Linked DNA regions of Homo sapiens: region 2 is linked to region 1. The links come from fine-mapping of genetic effects on plasma protein levels. Region 1 holds a variant in brackets. A gene starts in the other region. All regions are shown on their reverse strands.

Region 1 (12,862 bases):
CTTTGGCCTATCTTGCTAGAGATTGTTCAATTTTGTCAATCCTTTCAAAGAACTAACTTTGTATGTTTGTTTTCTATTTCAATAATTTCTGCCTTTGCCTTATTTCCTCGTTTCTACTTTCTTTGGATGTATTTTGATGCTATTTTTCTAACTTTCTTCTTGAGATGAATGCCTAAATCATTCATTTTCAGCTCTTTCCCCCTAATATATGCAAATCGGGTATGTTTCCTCCCAAGTACTACTTCAGCTGCATGTCACCAGTTGTGATATGTAGAATTTTTGTTATCATTTAGTTCCAACTATTTTCTAGTTCCCATATTGATTTCTTTGATCCATGGATTATTTAGAAATTCATGTTTAAATTTCTACATATATGGGGATTCTACATATATGGTTAGATAACTAGAAAAGTTATCTAACCAAGTCACATTGTAATCAGAATACATACTTCAAATCATTTCAATCCGTTGAAATGTTTGAGATTTTATCCCAGTCTATGGTCAATTATAAAAATTCTATGTGTGTTTTAAAATGAGATGTATTCCACAAGTGATAAAAACAGTCTCTATATGTCCGTTTGGTCAATTTTGCTAGTCTTTATGTTCAAATCTATACTCCTAAGCTTTTGTCTGATTATCCATCAATTACTAAGACAGGCATGTAGAATCACCTATTAATACAGTTGTGTATTTGTTTATATCTCCTTTGAGAGCTGTAGATTTTTGCTTTATATATTTTTAATCATTCTTTAAAATCACAATACATTCCTGGTAAATTAAATATTTTAACACTATGAAGTCCCTGTTCATTTCTAGTAATACTTTTGGCCTTAAGTTATTTTGTCTGATATTAATATTGCTGTACGGTAGATGGACCTGATAGCATAACTTAAGCATACCCCTAAGAATGACCCTGTATGGCAGATACATCTGACAGTATCAACTTAACTTAAGCATAGCCTGAGAATGACCCTGTGTTCTAAGAAGAATGTGTGTTTGGATTTCCAAGCTAAGGAATCCAGAAGTGGCCAATCTGGAGATTTATTTATTCCTTATGTATAATGAACATCTGAACCCCCGGCATGGCCTGTGACATGCAGGACATACAGGGGACTGAAGCCTTTTGTTTTGAGTTAAATGAAAGTTGCCAGGAGGAGGTTGCTAGGAGGAGGGTGCTAAGTGAAAATACTATATAAACTGCATGCTTTTTATAAGCAGTTTGGTTCTCCTGTTTAGCCCACCACCAGTGGACTGCCCTGTATGTAATTTCCCTCAATAAGCCCAATGTCTTCTTTGCTAGCTCCAGGTCTCTTCTCTAGCCTCTGCAACATGATGCTATCCCTACTGAAGTCAATAGGGTTCTGGCATGACAATTGCCATAGCTATTTTCTTTTGGTTGGTATTTCACAGTATATCTTTTCCCATTCTTTTACTATCAACCTTTCTATATGCCTTTGCTTTAATACTGGCTACAAAATAAACAAAATCCATATATATGCTGTTTGCAAGAGACACATCTATAACAAAAAAAGTGTTAATTGGGGCATGTATTTCATTTACCTTTAATGTAATTACCAAAGTATTTGGGCCATGATCTGTCCTCTTAGTACTTCCTGTTTTGTCCTATATTTTAAGTTTCTTTTTCTCTCCTTTTTTTTTTTTTTTTTTTTTTGAGACAGAGTCTCACTCTGTTGCCCACTTTGGAGTGCAGTGGTGTGATCTTGGCTCACTGCAACCTCCGCCTCCCAGGTTCAAGCGATTCTCCTTTCTCAGCCTCCAAAGTAGCTGGGTCTACAGATGTATGCTACCACGCCCAGCTAATTTTTATATTTTTAGTAGAGACAGTATTTCGCCATCTTGGCCAGGCTGGTTTCAAACTCCTGACCTCAGGTGATCCACCTGCCTCAGCCTCCCAAAGTGCTGGGATTACATGTGAGCCACCTGGCGCAGTCTTTTTCTCTCTTTTCTTGCCTTTCAATTAGATGACTATTTTTAATTACTTCATTTTCCCCCTTTACTAATTAGAAATTATACTGTTTTTATTCTTTTAGTGCAAGGCTTGGCAAACTATGGCCTGTGGGCCAAATCCAGCATGCTGCCTGTTTTTGCAAATGAAGATTTATTGGAACACAGCCACACTCATTTTACATATTGTCTACGGCTGTTTTCAAGCTTGCAACAGCAGAGTTGAACAGTAATGACTGAGACCACAGGGCCTGCAAAGACTAAAATATTTACTATCTATCTCTACAGAAAAAGTTTGCCAACCCTGTTTTTAGCAGATACCTTTTAAAATGCAATATGCACACAGCTTATCAAAGCCTTAAATTAATAAAAACTTTTATCTTCTTTATGGAAAAATCAAGGCCCTTAGAATATTTTAACTCAATTTATCCCTTCCCAAATATATGTTATTGTAGTTAGGAATTTTAACTTTATATATTTATTTTTAATTTTTTAAAAAATTTAATTTTTAGTGTTTGTGGGTACATAATATATATTATGAAATACATGAGATATTTGTATTATGATACTGTATTCCATAATACATGTTTTTATTTTTAGATCATAATACATATTCCATAACACAATTATGATACTATGATTAGTATTAGTCCATTCTTGCATTGCTATAAAGAAATATCTGAGACTGGGTAATTTATGAAGAAAAGAAATTTAACTGGCTCACTGTTCTGCAGGCTGTACAGGAAGCACAGCAGCTGCTGGGGAGGCCTCAGGAAACTTACACTCATGGCAGAAGGGGAAAGGGAAGCAGGCTCATTTCACACAGCCGAAGCAGAAGAAATAGAGAATGAGGTCCCACACACTTGTAAACAACCAGCTCTTTTGAGAAGTCATTCACTATACCAAGGGGTATAGTACTAAACCATTCATGAGCACTCCACCCCCATGATCCAATCACCTCCCACCAGGCCCCATCCCCAACACTGGGGATTACAATCCAACATGAGATTTGGGTGAGGACACAGATCCAAACCATATCACATGCAGTGCAGAATAATCACATCATGGAAAATTGTGTATTCATCCCCTCAAGCATTTATCCTCTGTGTTACAAAGAATCCAATTACACTCTTAATTATTTTTAAATGTACAATTAACTGATTATTGACTTTAGTCTCCCTGTTGTGCTATTAAATACTGTGCCTTATTCTTTTTTTTTTTTTTTTTTTTGAGACAGGATACTGCTCTGTCACCTAAGCTGGAGTGCAGTGATGCAATCATGGCTCACTGCAGCCTCAACTTCCCAGGCTGAAGGGATCCTCCTGCTTCAGCCTCCTTAGTAGCTGGGACTACAGGCATATACCACCATGCTTAGCTAATTTTTCTTTTATTTTTTGTAGAGATGGGCTCTCGCTATGTTAACCATGCTGGTCTTGAACTCCTGGCTCAAATTATCCTCCCGCCTCAGCCTCCAAAAGTGCTGGGATTACATGCATTTGCCACTGTGCCCACCCTTATTCATTCTATTTTTTTTGGTACCCATTAACAATTCCCACCTCCCCACCACTACCCCTCCACTACCCTTCTCAGCCTCTGGTAACCATCCTTCTATTCTCTATCTCCATAAGTTCAATTATTTGTTTGTTTGTTTGTTTGAGACGGAGTCTTGCTCTGTCACCCAGGCTGCTGTGCAATGGCACGATATCGGCTTACTGCAACCTCTGCCTCCCAGGTTCAAGCCATTCTCCTGCCTCAGCCTCCCAAGTAGCTGAGATTATAGGTGCCTGCCACCACACCCAGCTGATTTTTGTATTTTTAGTAGAGAAGGGGTTTTGCCATGTTGCCCAGGCTGGTCTTGAACTCCTAACCTCAGGTGATCCACCTGCCTCAGCCTCCCAAAGTGCTGGGATTACAGGTGAGCCACCATGCTCAGCCTGTTTTGATTTTTAGATCCCACAAATAAGTGAGAACATGCAACATTTGTCTTTCTGTGCCTGGTTTATTTCACTTAACATAATAAGTGAAATAAGTTCTATCCATGTTGTTGCAAATGACAGAATCTTATTCTTTTTATGGATGAATAGTACTCCATTGTGTATATGTACCACATTTTCTTTATCCATTCATCTGTTGATGGACACTTAGGTTGCTTCCAAATTTTGGCTATTGTGAACAGTGCTGCAACAAACATGGGAGTGCAGATATCTCTTTAATATACTGATTTCCTTTCTTTTGTCTTTATATCCAGCAGTGGTATTGTTCTCCGTAATGGTTGTACTAATTTACATTCCAACAGTATACAAGTGTTCCCTTTTCTACACATTCTCTCCAGCATTTGTTGCTGCTTGTCTTTTGGATAAAAGCCATTTTAATTGGAGTGAGATAATATCTCATTGTAGTTTTGACTTGCATTTCTCTGATGATCAGTGATGTTGAGTACTTTTTCATATGATTGGTTGCCATTTGCATGTCTTCTTTTGAGAAATGTCTATTCAAATCTTTTTTTTTCTTTTTCTTTTTTTTTCTTTTTTTTTTTTTTTTGAGACGGAGTCTCGCTGTGTAGCCCAGGCTGGAGTGCAATGGTGCAATCTCAGCTCTCTGTAACCTCCACCTGCTGGGTCCCAGTTCAAGCAATTCTCCTGCTTTAGCCTCCCTAGTAGCTGGGATTACAGGCACGTGCCACCATGCCCAGCTAATTTTTGTATTTTTAGTAGAGACAGGGTTTCACCATGTTGGCCAGGCTGGTCTCGAACTCCTGACCTCGTGATTCGCCCGCCTTGGCCTCCCAAAGTGCTGGGATTACAGGCATGAGCCACCGCACCTGGCCGGCTATTCACATCTTTTGCCAATTTTTAAATTGGATTATTAGATTTCTTCCTATAGAGCTGAGCTCCATATATATATATATACATATATATAGTTATTAATCCCTTGTCATATGGGTAGTTGTAAAAATTTTCTCCTATCCTGTGGATTGTCTCTTCACTTTGTTGATTATTTCCTTTGCTGTGCAAAAGCTTTTTAACTTAATGTGATCCCATTTTTCCATTTTTGCTTTGGTTGCCTGTGCTCGTAGAGAATTACTCAAGAAACTTTTGCCCAGGGTAATGTCCTAGAGAGTTTCTCCCAGTGTTTTCTGATAGTAGTTTCATAGTTTGAGATTTAAGTCTCTAATCCATTTTGATTTGATTTTTGTATATGGCAAGAGATACGGGTCTAGTTTCATTCTTCTGCATATGGATATACTACCTGAGACTGGGTAATTTATGAATAAAGGAGGTTTAATTGACTCACAGTTTCACAGGCTTAACAGGAAACATGACTGGGAGGCCTTAGGAAACCTACAATCATGGTGGAAGGTGAAGCGGAAGCCAACATCTTCTTCACATAGCAGCAGGAAAGAGAGAGAGCACAAAGGGGAGAGTGCCACACACTTTTAAACCATAAGATCTTGTGAGAACTCACTCACTATCATGAAAACAGAATGGGGGAACTCCACCCCCATGATCCAGTCACCTCCCACCCGGCCCCTCCCACAACATTGGGAATTATAATTCAACATGAGATTTGGGTGGCGACACAGAACCAAACCATATCAGAGATCCAATTTTCCCAGCATCATTTATTATAGAAACTGTCTTTTCCCCAATGTATGTTCTTGGTACCTTTGTCAAAAACGAGTTCACTGCAGGTGTGTGAATTTGTTTTTGAGTTCTCTATTCGGTTACATTGGTCTATGTATCTGTTTTTATGCCAGTACCATGCTGTTTTCGTTACTATAACTCTGTAATGTAATTTGAAGTTAGGTAATGGATTCCTCTAGTTTTGTTCTTTTTGCTCAGGATAGCTTTGGTTATTCTAGGTCTTTTGTGGTTCCATATAAATTTTAGGATGTTTTTGCTATCTCTGTGAAGAATGTCATTGATATTTTGATAGAGATTGCATTGAAGCTGTAGATTGCTTTGGGTACTACGGACATTTTAACATTGATTCTTCCAATCCATGATTATAGAATATCTTTCCATTTTTCTGTGCCATCTTCAATTTCTCTCATCAGTGTTTTATAGCTTTCATTGTAGAGATCTTGACAGGTGCAGTGGCTCAAGCCTGTAATCCCAACACTTTGGGAGGCTGAGGCAGGTGGATCACAAGGTCAGGAGTTCAAGACCAGCCTGACCAACATGGTGAAACCCCGTCTCTACTAAAAAAAAAAACAAAAAAACAAAAAAACAAAAAATTAGCCAGGCATGGTGGTGTGCACCTATAATCCCAGCTACTCAGGAGGCTGAGGCAGAAGAAACGACTGGACCCGGGAGGCGGAGGTTACAGTGAGCCGAGATCACACCACTGCACTCCAGCCTGGGCAACAGAGCAAGACTCTGTCTCAAAAAAAAAAAAAAATCACATCTCCTTCAAATAAGGATAATTTGACTTCTTCCTTTCCAGTTTGGATGCCCTTTATTTCTTTGTCTTGTCCGATTGCTCTAGCTAGGACTTCCAGTACTGTGTTGAATATCAGTGGTGAAAGTGGGGATCTTTGTCACGTTCCAGATCTAAGAGGAAAGGCTTTCAGTTTAAATTTATTTTTTGAATAAACTTTTTATTTTTGAAAAATTTCAGGTTTACAGAAAAGTTACAAAGATAGTACAGCAAATTCCCATATATATTTCACCTAGTTTCACCTAACATTAACATCTTACATAAGTTTGGTACGTTTGTCAAAACTATGAGATTAACATTGGTATATTTACTATTAACTAAACTCCAGATTTCATGCAGTTTCACCAGTTTTGCCACTAAAGTCCTTTATCTTTCCAGGATCCAACCGAGGGTAGCACCCTGTAGGTGAGTCATGCTTCCTGAGTCTCTTCTGGTCTATGACAGTTTCTCAGTCTTTTCTTGTTTTCCATGACTGAAAATTTTCAGGTATTTTGTAATATGAGCAGGTATTTTATAATATGTCCCTAAAGCTGGGTTACTGTGATGTTTTCTTTATGCTTAGACTGAGGTTATGTGTTTGGGGGAAGAATACCACAGAGGTGACATGCCTTTCTCATGATATCATATCAGGAGGTGCGTGATACCTGCTGGTGATGCCCATCTTGATTACTTGATTAGGGTAGTGCTTGCCTGGTTTCTCCACCGTAAAACCCATTCCCTTTCCCATACTCTGTTTTTTTGTAAGTGAGCCCCTAAATCTAACCCACATTGGAGGAGAGGTGGTGTGGGATGATTAAGCTCCATTTCCTAAAGGAGTGTGTGTGTGTGTGTGTGTGTGTGTGTGCGCGCGCGTGTGTGTTTATTTAGAATTCTTCTTTAGGAAAAATTGGTACTTTCCCCCACTTTATTTATTCAATCATTTGCTTATAACGGTACGAATTCACGCGTACTCATGTATTTTTTTAAACCAAGTGTTTTTTTTAATTTTATTTATTTATTTGAGACAGGGTCTCATTCTGTCACCCAGGCTGGAGTGCAGTGGCATGATGACAGCTCACTGCAGCCTCAACCTCCTGGGCTTAAGAAATCGATCCTCCCACCTCGCTTCCCAAGTAGCTGGGACTGCTGTCGCCTACCACCATGACCAGCTTGTTACTTATTTTGTTGCTCAAATTGTTCCCACTTTAGGCACTAGGAGCTCTTTCACATTGGCTCTTGTATCCCTTTGACATATTGTCATCCTTGTGGAGGTTTTGAGCAATTCTTTACTTTCTGTGACTACAAGATGCTCCAGGGATCCTCTTCCTGTCTTTTTCCTTGTCTTTTCCACAGCACCCCAGTTACTAGCTTAAAAATGACCCACTTCTCTCTCCCAGGATGGGAGCATTTTGCATCACCTAGATATAGTACCTGTCCTCTCAACCCTAGGATTTGACTCACCTGTCCAATTGGGTCCAACCCTAAGTTTCCATTGGATCTTAGGCATTTTGCTGTATTTGTAGAGCCCATCCCTGGAACCAGATGGAGACCCCTCTGTCTCCTACCTGGTCCCAACATCCTCTTTCAACGTTATAGCTTATCTAATATTCAAGAGCTGGCTCCAGGCTGTGTAACATTCAAAACAATCTGAATGTTAGACCGGACGAATGTTGGCCAGGTGTGGTGGTTCACACACACGATCCCAGCACTTTGGGTGGCTAAAGCAGTAAGATCACTGGAGGCCAGGAATCAAGACCAGCCTGAGCAACATAGCAGGGCCCCATCTCTACAAAAAAAAA[AT/T]TAAAAATGAGCCAGGTGTGGTGGTGCACATTTGTAGTCCTAGCTACTCGGGAGGCTGAGGCAGGAAGATTGCTTGAGCCAAGGAGTTCGAGGCTGCAGTGAGCTATGACCGCACCACTGCACTGCAGCCTGGACAACATAGTGAGACACTTTCCTTAAAAAAAAAAAAAAAGAGAGAGAGACCATCTAAATTATGAAAAGAATAGCTAGCTAGATTTTGGAGACGAGTTCATGAGTTCCATATATATATATGGATATATATTATATATTCCATATATATGTGTGTGTGTGTGTGTGTGTGTGTGTGTGTGTGTGTGTGTGTGTATAACGTCAGGCTTAGAGTATGTGCGATATCCAAATATATTTTGTCCCACCCCCTCTTGTTTTTTTTTTCTGTTTTAGAGCCAGGGTCTTGTAATGTGGCCCAGCCTGGCCTTGAACTCCTGGACTCAAGTGATCCTCCCATCTCAGCCTCTCAAGTAGCTAGGATGGCACACCTAGCCCCCTTTTGCTTTTGATCCAGCAAATATATGTGCTGGGAAATTGTTTTCTTCATCTTCCACAATCTAATCCAGTCTTCAGGCCCAGGCCCTTTAGTCCTTTCTACATAATTACTGCCTTGTATTAATAATGGATTATTCTCTTGCTGTTTTTGCCCTCAGATGTTTACTTTCTCCAAATAACTGCAAAAGTTGTCACCCTATCATTTGTGTCTGGATAGTTCTAAAAAAATCTTTGAACTTCTTTAGCTCTGCCTGGAGCACAAATCCCATTGACAATGACCAGATTCTCTGCTATCAGATCCATATCCCAGTGTGAATCTTCAAACCTTCTTGCGTTTTCTTTGGCTGTTCCTTTACCCCACCCCAGCCTCCTTTCTTCCAAAACTTTCCTTGACTCTTGGCCTACCCTGTAATTTCAGCAGCTCTCTGTACTTATCCCGCTGTTTAATCCACTTCAACTCTGTCTTGTATTCTAATTGCTATGTGCTTGTGAGTTTCTAGGGGGTAGGCATCAGATCTTAGTCATCTTCATCTCTGCCACAATGCCAGAGTGTGTCTAGCTTCTAATGTCCCCCAAGGCTATCCCACAATATTCATAATGTCCCACAATAATGTCCCACAATATTCATAATACCTGAATATTGTGTCCAACTACATAAGAATTGAATTCACTTGATGTCTTCATGCCATCCACGTACTTGGCAACTAAAAGAACTCAGGGCTTCTAGAGTTCTTCTGCATCCAGCCCTGGAGAAATCTAACCCTGTGCCCTATCCCCTCCAAATGTGGGAGGGGAGCTACTGTACAGTTGGCATCATCAACAGGATCAAGGGGTGCTCTGCCCTTTGGGGTCCCAGAATGCTAGGTATCTTCTCAGACTTGACACTGTTCATGACACCATGCTGAGAGATGAACTGACCCGATGAAAGAACGTGGTAGAGAGTTGTGGGTGAAGAGAAGCAGAGGGACTTTGCAGGAGCCTTTCCTAACTTTAGCCATCTTGAATTTGGGAGAGGTGTTTGTGGAAGATGAAAGGGGTGGTACTCAGGAAGCATCGTGAGAGTAGTGGCTGGGGAAAGGGGGATTACTGATCATCCAAGGCATCAGTGTGAAGATGTGGAACAGGAAAACAGAGCTCACATAGAGGCTGCAGGCCCTCAGATGCACAGAGGGGCCTATGGCCACCTTAAAAAGGTTGATTACTCTATCCTCATAAAACCAAAATCTGGCTCCTTTGCAGTCACCCTCCTGCCTAAAAGTTCCAGGGACCTTTCCAGAGAGTTTCATCCCCAGAGGAATGTTCCTGAGTATCTATTACCTGGATATTTCTCAGGCACAAGGAGGAACCAGCTCTCTACTGTCAGGGCCATATATCACAGGCCCTAAAGAGCTGGCATGAATCTAGGATGAACAAGGGTGTCTTTGATTTGTCAAAACATGGGGTAGCTGATGTCTAAAATGTACAGCCCGGGGTTTCTAGTGTTTGTTGGGTCCCACCACCAAGGGCTTTCAGCACCTCCAGAGTTCCTTATGTTCCTCTTACAAACACGGGGCAGGGGATGTGACCCTCATTTCATGGTCTAATGCGTGGATGTAGCAGTCATTCTAGATCTTGTCATGTCTGATTAAGACTGCCCTTTTTCTGGGTTTCCTATGTTAGGTACACAACTTCTTCCCTCTTCCCCTGGAATTATCTAAAAGTTCCCACCTCTCATTGTGTGTCTGTGTGGGATTGGAGTGTGTGTGCACGCATGCACACGTGGCTGCATGTTGGTAATGAAAATATAGGGATGCCAGTATAAGGCTTGTGTTAGGGACCAATGAAATGGAGTTGGGGACAGAATTAAAGAAACAAATCTGCTGTTAAGACCAACCCATGCCACCCATCCTATCCCACCTCTGATCTACTGTTTGATTTACTGACTTTGAAAGGTTAACTTTCCAAAATAAGACATTTCATTTTATTTCTGAAATCAGAATAAGTCGGTGAGAGTAGAAACCACTAGGTCGAGAGCAAGAACTCTCCCCCAAAGTGGAGAGAATATTTCTCCCTACCCTGGGCTGCGGATGCCCTGGAAACGGGGCTTCTTCCTCCCACATGTTCTGCTGGCACAAGTCCCCTTGGGCGGGCTGGGCTGAAGTGGGCAGGGTTGGGCCCCTTTCACCCACCCAGAAACATGGGTTCACTGAACGTCAGGCTCTAGGATCTCGAGGGGGTCCGCAGTGCGCTTCTGACCTGGCCCAGCAAGAGCACTCCTGACAGCCTCACAGACAGAAGGAGCTGCAGCCAGGTGTGCCTGAGCCTCAGTGATCGAGCACCGGAATAGGAGGCTCAGCAAGGCGATGGGTATCACCTGTGGGGAAGAGGCAGTGGGCACTGAAGCCTGAGGGAATGAGGTCATCAGAGAAAGAACCCCGGAGGAAGGTCGGGCGCAGTGGCTCACGCCTGTAATCCCAGCACTTTGGGAGGCCGAGGTGGGCAGATCACTTAAGTTCAGGAGTTTGAGACAAGCCTGGCCAATATGGCGAAACCCCATCTCTACTAAAAATACAAAAATTAGCCAGGCATTGGTGGCTGGCACCTGTAATCCCAGCTATTTGGGAGGCTGAAGCAAGAGAATCTCTTGAACCCGGGGGCAGAGGTTGCAGTGAGCCGAGATCGCGCCACTGCACTCCAGCAGCCTGGGTGACAGAGCAAGACTCTCTCTCAAAAAAAAAAAAAAAACAGAACCCTGGAGGAGTTAAAGCATTTGATACAGGAATCAGGAGCCACTAGGTTAGATGCAAATAGGATGTTATTAAGATTAGAAGGTGGTAACAAGGTGGATTAAGAGCAGAAAGAAACCTTCACTTTGACCAGGAAAACTCCTATTCATCCTTCAAAACCCAGTCCAAAGACCCCATGAATGTGGAGGTCCTTGTGAGCAGAGTGCCACTGAGCTTTGTAAACCCAGTGCCGAACAAACTTCCTGACACACTGAAAGTACTCAAAAAGTATTTGTTGAATGACCAGCAGTGGGCAGGATACCTGTTCCTTCTCATGTGCAACCTGGACATGGCAGGAGATGGGAGCAGCCCGAATATCATCTGACAGTGGCTGGGGAAAGTGGATCGCTCGGAGGAGGCTCTCGATGCATCGAGCCTTGGACTGTCCAGAGAACCGCTAAGGAAGAAGTGGTAAGATCAGTGTCAGGCTAAAGGCCAGAGGAACTAAGAATGGAGTCAAGGGAGAAGAATAAACTATGAGAGTGAGAGGCTGGGATCCCGAGGCCTGGCTATAGAGGCTGTAGATGATTTGTCCATGTTGGCAATCCTAAATTGTAATTCCCAGGTGTAAAGAAAAACTAGGTTAAAGGGGTTGGTGGTGGGCTTGACTGGCTGGGTTAAACTGGAGGATTAATGGCAAATTGCTCAAATTTGCATGTGTGTCCCACCAATCCTGTAGGTTGGTAATCTGGACTCCCTCTCTCTAGTTTCCTCTGTAACCAAATCCATCTTGCACACTAATGTAAGACTGTTCATCTGCAAACACTGCTTCCATTTTGTCACTACCCTCCTCTCTGTCTAGCTCAGCATTGTCCAGTAGAAATATAATGCAAGGCTGGGCACAGTGGGTCACACCTGTAATCCCAGCACTTTGGGAGGTCAAAACAGGAGGATTACTTGAGCCCAGGAGTTCGAGACCAGCCTAGGCAACACAGCAAGACCCCATCTCTACAAAAAATAAAACAAATTAGCTGGGCATGGTGGCACCTGCCTATCGTCCCAGCTACTCAGGAGGCTGAGGTGGGAGGATTGCCTGAGCTCAGGAGTTTGAGGCTGTAGTGAGCCGGATGGTGCCAATGCACTGCCCTCCAGCCTGGGTAACAGCGTGAGACCCTGTCTCTAAAAAAAATAAAAATAAAGAAAAAAATATAATGCAAACCACATATGTAAGTTTAAGTTTTCAGTAGCTGCATTAAAAAAAGAAATAGGTGAAATTGGCCAGGCACAGCAGCTCACACCTGTAATCCCAGCACTTTGAGAGGCTGAGGCAGGTGGATCACAAGGTCAGGAGTTGGAGACCAGCCTGGCCAATATGGTGAAATCCCGTCTCTACTAAAAATACAAAAAAAAAAAAAAAAATTAGCTGGGTGTGGTGGCGCATGCCTGTAATCCCAGCTACTCAGGAGGCTG
Region 2 (12,862 bases), not on the chromosome of region 1:
GAATAGTATATAATCACCGGTACCCCATTGGGTTATTGGGAAATCACCCTCCTGTGATTTTCCCCCTTGCATGTTAAAATACGTGTATATGACTTTTTCTCCTATTAATCTGCCTTTGTCAGTTTATTTTCAGCTGAACTGTAGAGAGTGAAGGAAGAAGCCTTTTTTCTTCACTCCTACATGACCCAGGCATTGATCCAGGCAATGAAGATTCAGTGTAAATAACCACCACTAACAAGACCATGGCCTTTGGAACCTGTGCTAAGAGGCATGGATGAGCTCCCTCAGCATGTGGATGGAGACTGAAGAGAGGTCTGAAGGCTCAGTGTGGTGTCTCCATTCTCTAAGAAGTTTGGAGGAGAAGCTGGATACAGCAAAACAGACTGAGAAGGAGCAGCTGTTGGGAAAGGAGGAAAACTAGGAAAGCATGGTGTTCCAGAATCCCTGATGGAGATATTGATTAGTAGTATCAGATTCTGCTTAGCAGTTGAGGAGTTCACCTTTGGCTTAAGCAACATGGAGTCATTGACTATCTCGTGAAGGTGGTTGCAGGAGAAGGTCTGGAGAACTAAATGGAGCAGTGATAAGAGAGAATGGGAGATGGTATGATAGGACTCCTGGACACCCCAGACATCAATCAAAACACCACAGACAAGAAGGTGTGGATACAAAAACTAGCAGTTAGAAGAAATAATAGAAAATGAACTCCAACTACTTCTGAAAAAAAAGTAATGAGGGCAATTAATACATTGAAGAAAGCCTCAATAAGTACAACAGTGTAGTACTGACTTATATATAGAAAAAACCTGATCAGTGGAACCAAATCCTCAGAATTAGACATAAGTGCATATGAGAATTTTGTATGTGATAAAGGTTGTATGTTAACGTATTAAGTAAAAGACGGACTATTCAACAAATGGGATTGGTACAACTGGGTGACCATCTAAAATAACATCATGTTGAAAACATACTGTATATATTACGGTAGGACAAATTCCAAATATGCTAAATATTTATAAACAAATAAGGAAAATGATAATAATAATATTAACATTATCTGGTGAATCCATGGAAAATTCTTTTATAGCCCAAAGTAGGGAAAGCTGCAACAACAAGGATGGAACTGGAGGTCATTATGCTAAGTGAAATCATTCAGGAACAGAAAGACAAACATCACATGTTCTCACTTATTTGTGGGATCTAAAAATCAAAACAATTGAATTCATGGAGATAGAGAATAGAAGGATGGTTACCAGAGGCTGGGAAGGGTAGTGGGGAGGGGGGGAGTGAGGGGAGGTGAGGATGGTTAATGAGTACCAAAAAAATACTTAGAATGAATAAGAGCTAGTATTTGATAGCACAACGGGGGACTATAGTCAGTAATAATTTAGCTGTACATTGTAAAATAACCAAAAGAGTATAATTGGATTATTTGTAACACAAAGGATAAATGCTTGAGGGGATGGATACCCAATTTTCCATGATGTGATTATTGCGCATTGCATGGCTGTACCAAAATATCTCATGTACCCCATAATTATATACACCTACTATGTACCCACAAAAAATTTTTAAAAAGGAATGAAATAAAAACATTTGAGTTTAAGAAAACCACAAAAAAACAAAGTAGGGAAAGCTCTTCAAATACTATGAAATTGAGAAGACAACTAAAGAAAATATTAATAAAGACAAGAACATAAATAATTTCTTTGGCAGAACATAAGCCATCATAATCAGAAGATAAATAAGCTGGGAAAAATATTTGTAACTCATATCCTAGATAACATACTCATTTTCCCTGTATATAAAAAGTTTCTCTAATGTGATAAATAAAAACACAATAAACCAGTAAAAAATGACTACTTTGATATGAAGGTATGAATTCACAATTCCTAGAAAATAGAAATAGCTCTTAAACATGTGGAAAGATGTGAAACCAAAATCATAATAAGAGAAATGTAAATTAAAATTACTTTGAGTTTTATTTTACTCACAATTTCAAAGACCAAAAAGTTTGAGAGTATACTGTGTGAGAGACAATGTGGAACCAAGTTCTTTCACTCATTTCTGGTGGGAGTAGAGATTGATACAGCCCTCATGGAAGGCAATTTGCAACATATAAAAATTTATAAAATCTAGGGCCAGGGACGTTGGCTCATGCCTGTAATCCTAGCACTTTGGGAAGCCGAGGTGGGCAGATCATTTGAGGTAAGTGGGTCGAGACTAGCCTGGCCAACATGGCGAAATCCCGTCTCTCTTAAAAATAGAAAAATTAGCCTGATGTGGTGGCATGTGCCTATAATCCCAGCTACTCAAGAGGCCGAGGCAGGGGAATCTCTTGAACCCCGGAGGTGGAGGTTGCAGTGAGCTGAGATCATGCCACTGCACTCCAGCCTGGGGGACAGAGTGAGACTCTGTCTCAAACAAACAAACAAAAAATTTATAAAATCTGATACTTTTTCACCATGGAGTTTCTTCTGTAGGAATTTATCCTAGAGATATATTTGTACATGTGCAAGAGACATATGTACAAGGTTAATAAATGCACCATTATTTGTAATATCAAAAGGTTAATAACTGTCAAAACAGCCATTAATATTGTATAAATTATGGTCCATCCATGCAATGGAATACTGTGTAGCTGTAAAAAAAAAAAAAAAAAAAGCAACAAGCCCGACATGGAAAGACTTCCAATAAATAGTAAGTTTAAAAGAAAGTGCAGAATAATACATATTTATATGAAAAAAGAGTTTTTATGCCTCAAAGGCCTTCACCCTTGATCTTCTGGTGTTATTCCTGTCCTTGTATTCTCCCAGAATCATTACCTCATCCCATGAATGGTACAGTCAAGTCTTGCTTGTTCTGTGTCCTTACATTCTTTAGAGAGAAGTCACAAGAGACAAGCAAACATCTCTTTTGCTAATAATATTGATCACTTCCTACAGCATAATATCTATGTGCAATTTTTTGGGAAGACCTCCTACTAAACAGTTAAGAATGGAAAGACACAAAGAGAAGAAAGTGGAGAAAGACCTCTGTCTTCCCACACTGGATTTTGCAAATACAACTCTTCTGTGATACAGGAAACTAAAAAGAGGGAAAAGTGGCAATTAAGAAAAACTGCCAGAAAATAAATACCTTGATGACCCAATTTGGAAAACTACTTCTAGATAAGGAAACACTATTACCCAATATGTTAATTTTTAAAATACCCAAAGAATTGAGCAAAAAGGACTTTGGCAAGGCAGGTTGTTGGATTTAAAACCGTTCTCCCATTAATGCCAAAGCCAGCAGAGGTACCAACTATAGCTCCACGGCCAGAAGATACCAGCAGCTCTGCCTTTACTGAAATTTCATCTGGAGAAAGGTCCACAGGTGAGGTTTCTTCCAAGGAGTAATTTCTCTTATTTGACTCTTTTGAGATCCTTTTCTCACATAATTGTCAAATTTCAATTGGAGAGAAACTGTGTTTTCTACCTCATTACGGGGTCAGTGCTGAGGAGAGTAGGAACTCAGGAAATGCTTCTTGATTGACTTTAGTCTGCTGTATTGGGTGACAAATTGACCACAGACCAAATAACACGTTGGAATCCTCTTATTCTTTCTAGAGATCTGGGCTGAGAATTAAGGGTTTATGCTTCTTCTTAAAACCCGTTTCAATCTTTCATGCAGTTATGATTCTCATACAAACAAATGGAAATGGGGAATTAGTCTTTCAAATTCAGTCCTTTGGCTGGCACAGTGGCTCATGCCTGTAATCCTTTGGGAGGTTGAGGTAGGAAGATTGCTTGAGGCCAGGAGTTCGAGACTAGCCTGGGCCGAACATACATACCAAGACCTTGTCTCTACCAAAAAAAAAAAAAAAAAAATTAGCTGAGTGTGATGGTGCACGTTTGTAGTCCTTAATACTCAGGAGGCTGAGGTGGGAGGATCACTTGAGCCCAGAAGGTCGAGGCTGCAGTAAGCCTTAATCATATCATTGCACTTTAGCCTGGGCAATAGGAAAAAAAAAAGAAAGAAAGAAAGGGAGGAAAGAAAGAAAGGAAGGAGAAAGAAAGAAAAGGAAAAAAAGAAAGAAAAAAAGGAAAGAAATTCAGTCCTCAAAACATAGATCTGTGTTTTTTTTTATGATCCTCTGCCCCTGTCTTTCTTTCTCTTCAGCACAATGAGGCTTTTCACAGGCATTGTTTTCTGCTCCTTGGTCATGGGAGTCACCAGTGAAAGCTGGCGTTCGTTTTTCAAGGAGGCTCTCCAAGGTAAGAACTCTGGAGGATGGAGGGCACATACCCAGGATTCATTCTGAGCAGGGGCCACATACTCACTGGATGTGAGTGCTCCTTAGAGAAGCCACACAGAGGTCAGAGCAGGAGTGTGGTTTTCTGTATCTGTTTCTTCCTCTAGGCTGGTCTGATTTATCACCCTCCCTTGGGGTTTCCAGACGAGAGGTTAAAGATGCTTTGGGCCCAGCCTGTACTCTTGGTGTAGAGTGCAGAAGGATAAAAACTTCCAGGGGGTTATCTCCCACTGCGGAAATTTACAGATGGCAGATTTCTCAGGGCATGATGTTTATTTAGCTCATCCACCTCAGGGAATATACTGAGTTCACAATTATACTCCAAGACTGAGACATGCCTAGCAGAGAGTAGAGAAATCCCATCCTGTACCCAAGCAAATGGCCAATGCTTGGGATGCAGAGCTTATGAAAATTAAGCCCTAACTTCTATCCATAAATAAAAAGAGCAAATTTCTACTGATTAGCCACAGGAGGGCTGAGATACGGCTGGGAAACTGACTTCTGCCATTCTGGATGGGAAACGAATCTTATTGACTAGCTGTTAAAATGGGAAAACTATGTTTGTCAGGTTATGCAATACTTTGAACTTCATGTGTTGTTATTAATTTTGTAGTTGAATTTTTTGTAATTTTTCAATTGAAATTTTATAAATTTTCATTTTTTCTGCATTTTGTGCTTTTAAAAATGATATTCTATAAATAGTTTTTAAAAAGTTTTGGTAGCATGTACTAAGTTTTTCTGCACATAGTAGAGAATATCTTTTCCCTTAGGTCAGTGTATTTCAGAATTTGTTGTATGGTCCACCAGCATTTAAATCGGCCGGTGTTTGTTTTAAAAGTACACTCTGAAGCCTCTTCTCATAGTTACTGAGTCAGAATCTTAGAAGTGAAGTGGGACTAGGAATAGCATTTGAAAAACTCCCCAGGTTACTTTAAGCACAATGCCAATGAGAACAACTGTCTTGGGTTTTTCTGTCACCCAGTGACAGAATCTGTCAGATGCTTGGAGAAAACTCTTGCTAGTAGATCTGGAAAACATAGAATGAACATAAAGCATGCATCAGAGAAAGGACAGTCATGCCATGCCAGAGATAAACTATTTGACAAAATTACAGACACAAAATAATACATGAAGTTAGTGAGAAATATCCCTTAGAACACAGTACCTAAGTAACAATTAAAACTATTTATCACAGCTTTTCTTTTTTCCAAGTGAGTTGGTTTAAAGAACTTGGTAACACGTAAACCACAGCAGAACTCAAAAATATTTATTGATTGAACAACACAGGCACTGATAGACATTTTCTATAGCTCTTCCTGGCTTAGACCTGTTTCAAACATCTATTTTTCCACTAATCTTTTTAAAAACTTTAAAATGATATATAACTTACATATAGTACACAGTATAGCTTGATGAGGTTTTTACACATACAAACATCCATATTACACCATCAGATCAAGATGTCAAACATTTCACACACCCCGGATGGGTCTCTCATGCCCTCTTCCAGTTAACAACCCTCACGAAAGGTAACTCCTATTCTTACCTCTATCATTGTTGATTAGTGTCCCTGTGTTTGATCTTTGAATAAAAGAAATCATACAGAATATGTCTTTTGTATCCGGCTTTGTTTCACTCAACATTACGACATACTAATATACATGACAGCATTTGTCATGTGTATTAATATTTTGTTCTTTTTCATTGCTACATAGTATTCCATTGTATACTGATATCACAATTTATCCTACATTATTGGATAATTAGGCTTTTTAAAGTTTTATGCTATCATGGCTAAACCTGTAATAAACATTGGTGTACATGTACTTTAGTGTACATAAGCCCTCGTTTCTGTTGTGGGTATACACTCAGGAATGGAAATGTAGAGTCATAAGGTATAGTCATGTCAATTTAGCTTTCGTAGATACCAGCAAACAGCTTCCCAAAATTGTACCAATTTACACTTCCATGAACAATTACGAGAGCTGGGCATGATGACTCACACTCGTAATCCCAGCACTTTGGGAGGCTAAGGCAGGAGGATCACTTGAGGCCAGGAGTTTGAGACCAGCCCGAGCAACAAAGTGAGACCCCATCTCTACCAAAAAAAAAAAAAAAATTAGCTGGGTGTGTTATTAGGTGCCTGTAGTCCCAGCTACTCAGGAGACTGAGGTGGGATGATCACTTGAGCCCAGGAGATCAAGGCTGCAGAAAACCATGATCACACCACTGCACTCCAGCCTGGGTGACAGAGGGAGACTGTGACTAAACAAAACAAAAAACAAAACCCAAAACAATTATGAGAGTTCCAGTTGTTCCACATTTTTGCCCACAATTTATATTGTCAGTTTTAAAAATTTTTATCATTCTGTTGGGTGTATAGTGGTATCTTATTGTCACTACTGCCCTTCACTAATAGGAACAGGAATCCAATTTGCATCAAGTATTCCAATATGCTAGGCATTTTATGTATGTTACCTCATTTTATCTTCTCATTTAGTCCACCAGGGAGGTAGGTATGATTCCCCCCAACTGAAGAATGTGGAAACTGACACTTAATTGTCAGGGCAGAGAGTTAAACATTTACATTCATGCCCTTCATGATAAGTCTGATTATCCAGGTCCTATGAAGCTCTCTCAGGTCATTCCACCTCATCACGTACTGCCCATTCCCTCGGCTTTCTTGTGCCATTTATGCCCATAGCAGTCAGATTTATTCAAGTCCTAGTTGTCCTCACTCAGCTGGTAAGGATGTATTTTTCTTATGGGCTATGGTAGATGTGCAGCCCCCTCCTCTTCTCACCAAGTCCCTTGTAATGTCCCTGGATCTTACATCTGTAGTACTATTCTCCATTGTGACATTCCTCACATGAGCATCCCCTCTTTGTACACAGTACACACAGACCCATGTAAGATGTAGCCCAGGGCATGACAACTGCCAACCAATTCAATTCAATGTAATCCATGGAAAAGCATTCCTCACATGAGCGTCCCCTCTTTGTACACAGCACACACAGACCCATGTAAGATGTAGCCCAGGGCATGACAACTGCCAACCAATACAATTCAATGTAATCCATGGAAAAGCACCTTCCTTACAGTTACTCAGGGAAGCTGTTCACAGGAAGTAATGTTTATCTCCACGTATGATTTCAAAGGATTATTTTGTCAAGGGCCAAAATCTGGAAATCAGTGGAAAATGTTCATTTCTACATTTCTCCAGTATGTCACTGGGTTCATTTTTGTCATTTTTTTTCTTTCCAGGGGTTGGGGACATGGGCAGAGCCTATTGGGACATAATGATATCCAATCACCAAAATTCAAACAGATATCTCTATGCTCGGGGAAACTATGATGCTGCCCAAAGAGGACCTGGGGGTGTCTGGGCTGCTAAACTCATCAGGTAACACAGATTCCCGGGGACTCCAGTGAGAGGCCAGCAGTGCCTATCTGTCTTGAGAGTCAGGAGAACCTGTGGCTCTTTCCCCTCCTCCACATACTCCTGGGGTCTGGGTGGCTGGCAGAGCCAGAGCAAGGCTGGTGAAGACATGTCTCCTTTCACCCACAAGGGAAAGTAAGAACTGAGGAGAGGTCTTGAAAGCACACTGTTGCAGGGGCTGGGTGCAGGGGCTCACACCTGTAATTCCAACTCTTTGGGAGGACAAGGTGGGAGGATCTCTTGGGCCCAGGGATTTAAGAGCAGCCTAGGCAACATAGCAAGACTCTTATCTCTACAGAAAATAAAAGAAATTAGCCAGGCGTGGTGGCATGCACCGTAGTCCCAGCTACTCAGGAGGCTGAAGTGGGAGATCCCTTGAACCCAGGAGGTCGAGGCTGCAGTGACCCATGATTGAGCCACTGCACTCCAGCCTGGGCAACAGAATGAGACCCTGTCTCAAAAAAAAAAAAAAAAAAAAAAAAGGGAAAGCACTCTGTTGCAGAGCGCAAGTATCAGTAGACTTAGGCCTTTGCCCAAGAAGATTGATAGTTTTCTTCCCCTTTCCTTGAGTTTTCCAGCCTCCTCTCAGTCATTACTTGGGTGGGAGAAGAGGAGGGAGTTAGCAGGTGGAGCTGTCTCAGGTGAGCAGGTGAGTCAAGAGATTAATCTCCTGTCTCCTTTCTTTGGGTTGCAGCCGTTCCAGGGTCTATCTTCAGGGATTAATAGACTGCTATTTATTTGGAAACAGCAGCACTGTATTGGAGGACTCGAAGTCCAACGAGAAAGCTGAGGAATGGGGCCGGAGTGGCAAAGACCCCGACCGCTTCAGACCTGACGGCCTGCCTAAGAAATACTGAGCTTCCTGCTCCTCTGCTCTCAGGGAAACTGGGCTGTGAGCCACACACTTCTCCCCCCAGACAGGGACACAGGGTCACTGAGCTTTGTGTCCCCAGGAACTGGTATAGGGCACCTAGAGGTGTTCAATAAATGTTTGTCAAATTGAATTTGTTGGTGGAAACTGGGAACATTGAGGCAGACTTTCTGGGAAGAATGGTCATCTGAGGCCATATGGAAGATAAACAGCACCATGGCAGATGAGCCTGTGACTGAGGGGGACCAAGGACTCCCAGCTGGCCTGTAACTATGCAGGCTCCTCACATGACCCAAGCCAAGCTTCTCTGGTCATTTTCGGCCCCAGCTTCCCCTCCTGAGTAAGCCTAAGCCGGCAAAGCACTGACCATCATCCTGGGCTTCTGAGTGGCTGGAGTCATGGCTCTGGCACAGCCCTGGGCAGTCTTCCATCAGTCTCCTCTGTATCTCAGATTGGACTTCTACCCCCAAATTCCCACTTCTTCTTCAGGGCCTCACAGTTTATTTTGTTGCAGTTTCCAGGCCTCTCTGTATACAGACTTTGTACTGCCCAATTCATTGCATCCTGTCCACTCTCTGCCTCTAGGCCTTGTCCCCCAGTGAGCTCTTTCCTTATGGAGAAGGTACATTGTGGGCTGAGTGTGGTGGCTTATGCCTGTAATCCTAGCCTTTTGGGAAGCTGAGGCAGGAGGATCGCTTGAGCCCAGGAGTTCAAGACCAGCTAGGCAACATAGTGAAACCTCATCTTTACTAAAAACCAAAAAAATTAGCCAGACATGATGGCATGTGCCTGTATTCCCAGCTACTTGGGAGGCTGAGGCTAGAGTACTGCTTGAGCCCAGGAGGTCAAGGCTGTAGTAAGCTATGATCACTCCATTGTACTCCAGCTTGTATGACAGAGTGAGACCCTGTCTCAATAAAAACAAGGTACATTGCTTAGAGAAGCCTAATCCTAGGAGTTCTATCCTAGAAACTGCTATCTTGGACTCTGGTTTCTTTCTTTCTTTCTTTTTTTTTTTTTTTTTTTGAGACAGAGTCTTTCTCTGTTGCCCAAGCTGGAGTGCAGTGGCACGATCTCAGCTCACTGCAAACTCTGCCTCCTGGGTTCAAGCAATTATCACACCTCAGCCTCTGGAGTAGCTGGGACCACAGGTGCGCACCACCATGCCCGGCTAATTTTTGTGTTTTTAGTAGAGATGGGGTTTCGCCATGTTGGCCAGGCTGGTGTCAAACTCCTGGCCTCAAATGATCTGCTGCCTTGGCCTCCCAAAGTGCTGGGATTACAGGCCTGAGCCCCTCTGCCTGGCCGACTCTGATTTATCTCTTATCAACACCCGTGCCTCCCCTGACTCAATTTTTAATTTGTCCCGCTCATTTTACCTAAGGAATGACTCTCCTGTTGGTTTTCCTTATCTTTATTCTCTTTTTTTTTTTTTTTTTTTTTTTTTTTTTTGACAAAATCTCCCTTTGTCAAACAAGCTGGAGTGCAATGGGGTGATCTCGGGTTACTCAACCTCCGCCTCCCGGGTTCAGGGGATTTTTTCACCTCACCCTTCCGAGCAGCTGGGATTACAGGCATGGGCCACCACACCTGGCTAATTTTTGGGTTTTTAATAAAAAAGGGGGTTCACCATGTTGGCCGGGCTGGGCTAACTCATGGGCTCAACTGGCCAAGGGTCTGAAAATGTAGGCCTGAACCACTGCACCTGGCCGGCATTTCGTTGGCTTTTAGTTCAAATAAAATTCTACTTCCTGTCCTAAAGGGGAAGTGAGATATGTAGATAGACAACACAGTTTAGTAAGAGCCTCAACAGAAGCACACACTGGTGGCAATCCAAATTTTGCTGGGGTATGGGAAGTCAGCAAATAGTAATTAGAATAGCTGCCATTTTTAATTGCAATTGCAAGACTGTGCCCTACAGTTTAAATACTTTATCTGATTTAAGCTGCAGAGAAGGCTTTGATGTTCTCAGCTGGATAAACTGAGGTTTAGAGAGGTTTGTGTTTAGGACCTTCTCCAAGGTCACATATGTAACAGGTGCAGAGCCAGGACTGCAGGCTGGTTTGTCTGACTTCAGAACCTGTGATACACTGAACAAGGCCAAGAGGTTCAGCAGTGGAGACCCCTTTCTTCTTCGTGGATCTCCAGCACTTGGTTTAAATGGCCAGGTGAGCCCTTATGCTTGGGGAAATGTCTGACTTGTTTGAGAACAGGCACCATATCTTGTTCATCACTGCATGCTTAATGCCTAGCAGGGTCCAGGCACTCAGTAGTTGCTTTCTGAATTAGATTATCCCATTGAAAACCTACACTTCAACCCACATTACTCTTCACTCTTGCACATTGTCTTCTTCCTCTTAATAAGTCAAACTTGTTGAAAGTATTGCCCATCTACACACCTTCTGATTCTTCACTTCTGATCATATGTTAACCCACTCCAGCCTGGTTTCTGTCCCCACAACTTCAGCAAAATACCTTTGTCACCACTGACCTCCATGCTGCCAAAAACAATGAACATCTCTCTTTTCTCATATCAGTAGCTCTGTGAGCAACATTCAACGCAGTTGCCTTCCCCTTCCTTCCTGATATATTTGGTCTCTTGGCTTCATAATACTACTCTTTCCTTCATCAGCTCTAAGTAGCATAATATTACCCTCTACCTCAATTCTCCTTTATTTCCTTAGCTGGGACTTTTTTTATCTCCCCAAACTCTGTGTTCTTCAGACTTGGCTCTGGGCCCCCATTCTTTATTTCTCTATGCTCTCTTTCACAAGTCTAAATAGTACTTATATGTGGATGGCTTTTAAAATTATATCTCCCCCTGCAAAACTCATTTCTGAGCTCCATGCTTGTACATCCAACTGGCTACTTGACATATCTACATAGCTGGCTTCCAGATATCTCAAACTTAACGTGTCCCAAAATGAACTCGGGTTTTCCCGTCAGAACTCTTCACACTCCAGGTTTCTCCATTTCAGTTAATGACATGGCCATTCTCTCTGTTCCTCACACCAGTTAGGGGAATGTGTTGATGCTTCCCTTCACTTTACCCCCACATTCAATCCGCTGGATGTGAACTTCCAAAGTTCATCTCTAATCCATTGACTTCCTCTCATTTACACCCTCATGCTCCTGGCTACATCATTTCTCATCTGGGGTACTGCGGTAGCCATCTAACTAGTCTCCCCATTTTATTTTATTTTATTTTATTTTATTTATTTTATTTTTTTTGAGATGAAGTCTCGCCCTGTTGCCAGGCTTGAGTGCAGTGGCACAATCTCGGCTCACTGCAACCTCCGCCTCCTGGGTTCTAGCGATTCTTGTGCCTCAGCCTCCTAAGTAGCTGGGACTACAGGCGCCTGCCACCACGCCCAGCTAATTTTTGTACTTTTAGTAAAGACGGGGTTTCACCATGTGGGCCAGGATGGTCTCAGTCTCCTGACCTCGTGATCCACTGCCTCGGCCTCCCAAAGTGCTGGGATTACAGGCGTGAGCCACCGCGGCTGGCCGATTATTTAGATTATTAAAGGTCACTGCAGTCCCGTTTCAAGCTCCAATATCATGTCTGTTTTAAAGCATCCTGCTCCGCTATTGTTGGCTAGATTGTAGTGGGAGTGCTGGGAGGGGTGACGGTTAGAGACTCTTTCCCTGCTCCTCTGGCACCAGCACCTTAGAGAAGGGTGGGGATAGTCTAGTTCTGAGATGTCTTTCTATCACACTTCTCAGCCTCAGGATTGGGAAAGGGGAGAGATGTAAAGGAGGGGGTAATCATTTTGGCCTCACCCTGGTTTGATGTGCTTCTAACTGATGCTGATATATATTCTCTACTGATGTGGAGGTCTCTACTGAGATGGTGGTCAGGGTTCTTCCTGATGTGAAATCCAGCTCCCTCAGATATGGGGGTGGAACTGCCCAGAGAAGAACAGCTGTATCTACGACTGGTCCTGAAAGTGGTCCTTGTTCCAAGCCCCCTCTCTGGGTAAGGTTTACCTTACCTGGCCCAGCCACTGCTTTTTCCCTAACCTCAGTGGTTTTCTCAATAGACCCACCAGAATGGCTGAGGATCTCTTCTCTTCCTGCCCAGGGGTGCAGAGATCAGAGTTGGGTAAGAAGTCACCCCATCTTCTTTTTAGGCATATTCCACCAATACCTCTTCAAGCTCTGCTGGCCTGGGCTACTCCATCCTTCAGAAATCCCCAGATGAGAAGCAGGCACCAGAATGTTCACACATGGTGAGCTCTCTCAGGAACTCACCACA

Direction of the effects. Alleles are on the strand shown, and positions count from the first base shown. The strength of an association depends on the size of the effect and on how common the allele is.
With allele AT in place of T in region 1, the plasma level of the protein whose gene starts at base 3,290 in region 2 is higher (weak association).

The links. A credible set is the group of variants that fine-mapping cannot tell apart. PIP is the posterior inclusion probability: the model's chance that the variant is causal. Protein levels are from antibody-based Olink assays in UK Biobank. Linkage for the fine-mapping came from a reference panel and not from the study's own genotypes, which makes the PIPs less certain.
Region 2: SAA4 starts here. The variant in region 1 is the best candidate, but not a certain one, in a credible set for the plasma level of the SAA4 protein (UK Biobank, PIP 0.51).

Annotation. Positions count from the first base shown.
Region 1 is chr2:27,521,447-27,534,308 of GRCh38, reverse strand. It overlaps GCKR (glucokinase regulator), which reads right to left. Exons shown (of 19, transcript NM_001486.4): 18 at 11,715-11,849; 19 at 10,625-11,040. The coding sequence ends at 10,870. Among named protein-coding and RNA genes, the nearest start is that of SPATA31H1, 9.5 kb to the left of the region's middle. The variant AT/T (reference allele first, on the strand shown) is at 8,183.
Region 2 is chr11:18,227,230-18,240,091 of GRCh38, reverse strand. It overlaps SAA4 (serum amyloid A4, constitutive), which reads left to right and starts at 3,290. Exons shown (of 4, transcript NM_006512.4): 1 at 3,290-3,375; 2 at 4,162-4,256; 3 at 7,559-7,697; 4 at 8,428-8,737. The coding sequence starts at 4,166. The coding sequence ends at 8,590. It overlaps SAA2-SAA4 (SAA2-SAA4 readthrough), which reads left to right. Exons shown (of 6, transcript NM_001199744.2): 4 at 4,162-4,256; 5 at 7,559-7,697; 6 at 8,428-8,737. The coding sequence ends at 8,590. It also overlaps a transcript of SAA2 not described here. RefSeq lists a silencer at 10,662-10,711.